Homo sapiens: one gene and its partner. The protein of the gene in region 2 interacts with the protein of the main gene of each other region in a biochemical or structural test. Each region holds a gene or a part of one and is shown on either strand. Other genes may lie near its edges.

Region 1 (3,500 bases), on a different chromosome or scaffold from region 2:
CTGCACTGGGAAGGGTTTATATTAATAGATACCAATCTGGAGAAAGATTTATTATTTTATCCTTAAAAGTATAACAGTATAGTATAGTATACAGTATAGATTATATACAGCTTATTTTCCACTTGTTTCTACATCTATGAAATAAAGTAGTGATCTATTTTCACTACTCTTTCCAAAAATGTTAAGTATGGAGTTTTGATACCATCTCTAGATGCCCTTACCTTCTTTCTAACCTAAATGTTTCTACAACTAAGTCCTAGCATTGTTAAGATGTGTGTGTGTGTGTGTGTGTGTGTGTGTGTATTCACACAGAGGACTACATACTTACATCTTTCACATTTCCCAACAAAATAAATACAAACAATAACTCCACTACGCACTATTTTATTTTGCCTTGTTTCTGAATTCCCCTTATTAAAACAATTCCTAGAATGACACCTGTTGGAGGATTCAGCCAGCACTGCCCTGTTCATCATTTTCATTATCAGAGCTCAATAATCATATCAAGTGGAAACACGGATTATTCCATTTAGGACAACTTAATTTGATCCTAAAACAACTGTAAGTGACAAAATAAGCCACTTGTAATTTTTATGGATTATCAACACACGAAGGAGAATGCCAAAAATTTCAACCAGAGTTAAGTGGGGAAATGGCAATGTTCCACGAGAGGATCAATGTGATCCTTAGATCCCAGGCCCAGTGTTTTCCCAGAACCTCAACAATCTAAAAAAAACCTCACGAAACTAAGTTTTAAAATTACATACACTTAGTTTTCATTATTAAAATATTAAATACAGATCAAAAGAATTCCCACAAGAATACAAAAGGAAAATAAACATACTTCCCACAACAGAATCTTCATGAAACTTTAAAAACCTTTTATGTGAAACTACGTTTCTTTAGGAGTATTTTCACAAAACACATTTGCACTAATGTGGAGTGTGAAGTTTACAAACTATTCAGAGTTCACACTGATATCAAACATCATAACATTTTTTCAGTTTTCCAAGGCATAGTTGTATGTAACTTATCTCACTTATCTCAAAATATCAAGCAATGTGGTTCTGAAATTGTCTATCCCCATTTATAAAAGGGAACTTAAAGACTTCAGAAACAGCAACAAATAAATGTTCTGTGACATTAAAAGATTAGTTCATGGATATGCAAGTTTGCTTTTTGCTTCAATTGAAATAAAAAATAGCCTGATTAATGTATTATTCACTTACTTTGTTATCAAATACTGTTTTAAGACCTATCATGAATTGATGTCTTGTACTTTTTTTTTTCAGTACTATGACAAACAGCATGAGTTTTGATTAAAAAAACAAGTCATGTTCAAAAGCAATTACAACCTTTTTAGGCAAAAAGAAACACCATTTGAAGAAGGAACACAGACCAGATACATATGATCAAAGTGTAAAGACTGAGAAGAATACACAGAGGGAAATTTTTACATTGACAGAACTAGAAAATGTGTTTGCGCAAAGGCAAAGGCTGATTTCAATAAACAAGTCAAAAATACCATAGGACTTTTTTCCTCTTCTAAAAATTAAGTAAAAGATCAAAAACACATACACACACTCACACACACACATACACGTGCACACACACAGAATCCCTGTGTTCTTTGTTTTGTCTTTAAGAACAATCTGTAAACTTTCTTGATGCTTCCTGCTCTCAATCTTCCAGCATCTCTCTTCCTGCACTCCATGAAAAGCAAGTAGGGGAAATGGGAGCAGCACAGATCCCTATTTAGCATGATGTTCACTGTCTTTAATACCAGTTTGAGTAGACCTGGTATACTGCACTTTAAAAATATTAGTAGCCAACACACTTTTTCTATATGGAATCTTATCACATGAATTAAATATTACCTTAAAGGCCAGAAAAACCTGTAACAAACCATCATTGCTAGAAATATGAGATTTGGTGGGAATGTTGGCATTAGCTTTGGTTAGTGGATGAGTCATATTTCCAGTTCTTAAGGACATGTACAGCACTAAAATATATTTGGCAAAAACAAAAGGGCTGTGATCTTGTGTATATATATGTGGGGCTCTGTTTTTGCTAGAAAAGAGTAGGAGGGAGTGTGGGAGGGGGCAGAGTGGCAGAGGGGTTGATTTATTTTTGAAATTCACTTTTATGAGCACAAAGAGAAGAGCTGTCAGCAGCACACATGCCAATGTCCAAACAGCAGCCAGACTCTCCTCTTTCCGTCTGGGTAGGCCAGACACAAAACTACATCTCACGACCTAGGAAAATCAAGAGTCAGATGCAAGAGAACTAGAGAGAGAAAAAAAAACAGTCCTGGAAATGTCCAGCTACATATGATTGCTAGTGATTAGAACGTGGAGTTTTAATGAATTGAGGGATCGAGGGATATTTAGCCAATCAAAACCAAAAAAAACTAACAGGCAAACCTTAAAGCAAGCTGGCTCCAAAGTATCTTCCTAGCAGGTAATAAGTATAAGAGAAATTAATCTCACCTAAAGAGACAACAAGGAGTCAGATACTGCTCAGGTGCTGCTTAGATGAGTTACAGCATTCTAAGTGCACATCAACAGGGTGACATGTCAGGAACTATAGACAAAGCAGGATCTCGAGCTGTATTTCCAGGCTCCTATCATACAAGAGAGACAATAGTCCCTCTCTAGGTCATTGATAAGACTGCATCTAGAAAGCTACATATTATTCTCAACACAGAGTTGAAAACCTGAACCAACAGTTAAACAAACAGCTAAAGAAACTGACTAAAAATATTTTTTTCTGTAGTTAGAAATGCCAGGAATGTTAATAGTGACTCTTCCATGGGTCTAACTCAAGTAAGGATTTATACGAGGTAAGTTAAAAAAATTAAGGATAATCGATCATTGTGCTGACAAAATTATGGTCTGGCCAATCTAGTATGTTTATGTTTAACAATAACTATGTTAAACAATAATTAAATGAATGACTGGCTGAGTGAAAACACACACACACATGCACACACACACGTGCGCACACACACACTCACACACAAATCCTGAACAGCCTGCACTTACTGGAGAGAGAATTTGGAAGGAGTAAAAAGCTGAGACTAAGGCACTTAATGATGATTACACCCCAGATAGCTGCACAGTGCTTTACAATTTACAGTGCTAGTTCCCATAAATTACTTCATTTAATCATAAAAAACATGTGGAAAGGTCAAGTTGGGTATTATTATCCCCATTTTACAGAGGAGAAAGCTGAGTTTCCAAGTCACCTTACCTGCATCTGGTTTCGTCAGTCATCTAAGTCCTTCTACAGAAAACTTTCTTACATTATATCAAGAGATCACAGCTATACAACCCAGTGAATAAACTTTAATACTTCTTTATTCTTCTATGCCTCGGTTTCCTCAGATATGACATGGGTGTCATTTTAAGTGAGAGGTGAAACTGAAAGAATGTATGAGTTGGGATTTACAGAACGTTCTGGTTTTAAAGAGGCTCACAGTGCAGCAGTTTTACACTTTA
Region 2 (3,500 bases):
GGCATGATCCTAGCTCACTGCATCCTCAAACTCCTGAGCTCAAGCATTCCTCCCATCTTAGTCTTCCTGATAGCTAGGACTATGAGAACATACTACTGAGCTAATTAGCACCCGGGCTAAGTTTTAAATTTTTTGTGGGGATGGTGTCTTGCTCTGTTGCCCAGGCTACCCTCAAGGAATCCTCCTGCTTCAGCCTCCGAAATGCTGGGATTAAAGTCATGGGCCACCATACCCAGCCTACAGATAGCATTTCATTAAGTGGAGACCTCAGGCTTTATTCTGAGGGAGGGTATTTAGATTGCTCCTATTCCACCTTTATAAACAATGCTGTAATGAATGTCTAGCCTTTGTCAAAGAGCGGAAAAAATTCTCATCAATTTTTAACACTTCTAGGCTTTTCCCCAAATGGCCAGATTGATTTCCAGAAGGACTGGACTAATTTCCAGTGCCATAACTGGTAATGGGTGTGCATATAGTTTTGTCATGTCCTTGTCAGCACTGGGTATTATCCTTTTTTCAAAATTTTGGCTTACATAACAGTCATGAAACTATTGGGGTGGGCTGGGTGTGGTGGTTCACGCCTGTAATCCCAGCACTTTGGGAGGCAGAGGCGGGTGAATTGCCTGAGGTCAGGAGTTTGAAACCAGCCTGGCCAACATAGTGAAACCCTGTCTCTACCAAAAACTACAGAAATTAGCCGGGCGTGATGGCACACGCCTGTAATCCCAGCTACTTGGGAGGCTGAGGCATGAGAATTGCTTGAACCCGGGAGGCGGAGGTTGTAGTGACCTGAGATCGTGCCACTGCACTCCAGCCTGGGTGACAGAGCGAGACTCTATCTCAAAAAAAAAAACAAAAAAACTTATTGGGGTGCTTGGCTGGGTGTGGTGGCTCACATCTGTAATCCCAGCACTTTGGGAGGCTGAGGTGTGAGGATCACTTGAGGCCAGGAGTTCTAGACCAGCCTGGGCAGCATAGTGAGACCCCCATCTTTATAAAAAGAAAAAAATACATTAAAAGAAAAAAACGAACTATTCGTGCTTTAGCTGAAGCTCAGTAATGACAGTTCTGTCTCCTGTCCCGCGCTTCCTTGTTCCTGTCATATTCCCCGTCCATCTCACACTCATTCCCTCTTTACCCATAGCTGATCATCCTGGCCAATGGTGGGCCCCAGGCCCTCGTGCAGATCATGCGTAACTACAGTTATGAAAAGCTGCTCTGGACCACCAGTCGTGTGCTCAAGGTGCTATCCGTGTGTCCCAGCAATAAGCCTGCCATTGTGGAGGCTGGTGAGTATGATGGCCTTGAGGGCGGCTGGGGTGGGAGCTCTGCCCAGCTGCCAGGCTCAGTCAGCCATGCTCCCCGTGGCTGATGGCACCCCTATCCCTGCCCCAGGTGGGATGCAGGCCCTGGGCAAGCACCTGACCAGCAACAGCCCCCGCCTGGTGCAGAACTGCCTGTGGACCCTGCGCAACCTCTCAGATGTGGCCACCAAGCAGGTGAGGGAGGTATCTGGGCCTGGGGTTGACCTCTTCAGCTGCCCCATCCAGCCTCCTGTCTGGGCATCTGACCTGAGGTACTGTGGGAGGACTGGGGGCTCTAAATCTCTCTTCCTTGTGACTGAGGCTGGAAATGCCTTGAAAACCCTCATCTCTTTTTTTTTTTTTTTTTTTTTTTCTGACGGAGTCTCACTCTGTCACCTAGGCTGGAGTGCAGTGGTGCAATCTCGGCTCACTGCAAGCTCCGCCTCCTGGGCTCAAGTGATTCTCCTGCCTCAGCCTCCCGAGTAGTTGGGACTACAGGCACCTGCCATCATGTCTGGCTAATTTTTGTATTTTTATTAGAGACAGGGTTTCACCATGTTGGGCAGGCTGGTCTTGAACTCCTGACCTCAGGTGATCCACCCGCCTTGGCCTCCCAAAGTGCTGGGATTACAGGCGTGAGCCACCACATCCAGCAAAAGAACAGTTTTGACCTGGGCCCTGGGCTGGAGCAATAGTGTACCAAGAGACAGGCCCCCATGACTAAAAATACAATTTAAGGAAAAATGCAGCTCCAGGGCAAGTGCCCTGTGCCTCCTTCCAACAACCATTCCCCAGGCCTCCCCTAGCAATATGCTGTTTATCAAGTGCTCACCCTGTGCTGGCCCTCTGCGTGGCATTTGTGGACAGTAGCTCATTCAACCTGGGGTTAGAGTGTGGGACCCTGTGGGTTAGATGAAGACACTGAGGCTCGGGGAGCTAATGGCCATGGTCACAGGTAGTAAATGGCAGAACTGGGATTTGAACCCAGGACTGTCCGTCCCCAAAGCTGGGGTTTTTCTGTTCCACCACAAGGCCCACGTGTCTCCCTGGGAGAAGTGAGATAGACGTCTGAGGTAGTGATTTTACTGGAAATGGATTTGGCTCAGGGCCCCAGGGTGGTGGGGCAGCAGTGAAGGCCCAGAAAGGTGACAAGCGAGTAGACATGGCTCAGCTGGGCCACTGAATCATGCGGCCCCCTCAACAATTGCCTCCTGGTCTCGAGGCCTCCCTTGGCCACCGTACTTTGGCCTGAGGAGGGTTCTGCCTGGGTCTGAGGGCCCCAGGGAAAGGCTGATGAGTTGGAGGGAAGAGATGTGGGGCTTAGAGCCAAGCCTGGGTTCAGATCCAGCCACTAGCTGTGTGTCTGTGGGCAAGTTCCCCAACCTCTCTGAGCCTCATTGCCTCACTTGCACCACAGGATAGTAACGCCCTCTCACAGGGTGTGGCGGGTCATAGGGATGAAAGTTCCCGGGCACACACAGGCAGGGCTGACCCCTTTAGGTCATCCCACTCCCCTTGGACATATTCGAGAAGGCTCCCTGGAGTTGGCTGCTCCCTGACTCCCCCGTCCCTTCCTTGCCCTCCAGGAGGGCCTGGAGAGTGTGCTGAAGATTCTGGTGAATCAGCTGAGTGTGGATGACGTCAACGTCCTCACCTGTGCCACGGGCACACTCTCCAACCTGACATGCAACAACAGCAAGAACAAGACGCTGGTGACACAGAACAGCGGTGTGGAGGCTCTCATCCATGCCATCCTGCGTGCTGGTGACAAGGACGACATCACGGAGCCTGCCGTCTGCGCTCTGCGCCACCTCACTAGCCGCCACCCTGAGGCCGAGATGGCCCAGAACTCTGTGCGTCTCAACTATGGCATCCCAGCCATCGTGAAGCTGCTCAACCAGCCCAACCAGTGGCCACTGGTCAAGGTACTGCTGTTAGGCGAGGGGAAGGAGCTCCCTGCAGCAGGCTTAGGTGCTGTATTGGTATAGGCAAAGCCGCTGTAGCAAAGAAGCCCTAAATACAGTGGCTCGAATAAGACAGAAGTTTATTTCTCTCTCGTGTAATAGTTTAGACCTCAACAATGGCTCTGCTCTAAAATTCCAGAATTGGGATTTCTATCTTGTAGCTCTACCAGCCCCTAGGGCAGAGCTCAGAGTTCAAAATGCACATGAGTACCCTGGGTGGTTTCATTAAATT

Evidence for each region.
Region 1: the proteins of JUP (region 2) and PTPRK form a complex in vitro, tested with the Homo sapiens proteins (one study listed by BioGRID).

The regions. Positions count from the first base shown.
Region 1 is NC_000006.12:128,514,100-128,517,599, forward strand, and holds part of PTPRK (receptor-type tyrosine-protein phosphatase kappa isoform b precursor), read right to left. Parts: intron 1-3,500. UniProt on the Homo sapiens protein: Regulation of processes involving cell contact and adhesion such as growth control, tumor invasion, and metastasis. Negative regulator of EGFR signaling pathway. Forms complexes with beta-catenin and gamma-catenin/plakoglobin.
Region 2 is NC_000017.11:41,762,712-41,766,211, reverse strand, and holds part of JUP (junction plakoglobin), read left to right. Parts: intron 1-1,144; coding exon 1,145-1,289; intron 1,290-1,395; coding exon 1,396-1,499; intron 1,500-2,890; coding exon 2,891-3,229; intron 3,230-3,500. UniProt on the Homo sapiens protein: Common junctional plaque protein. The membrane-associated plaques are architectural elements in an important strategic position to influence the arrangement and function of both the cytoskeleton and the cells within the tissue.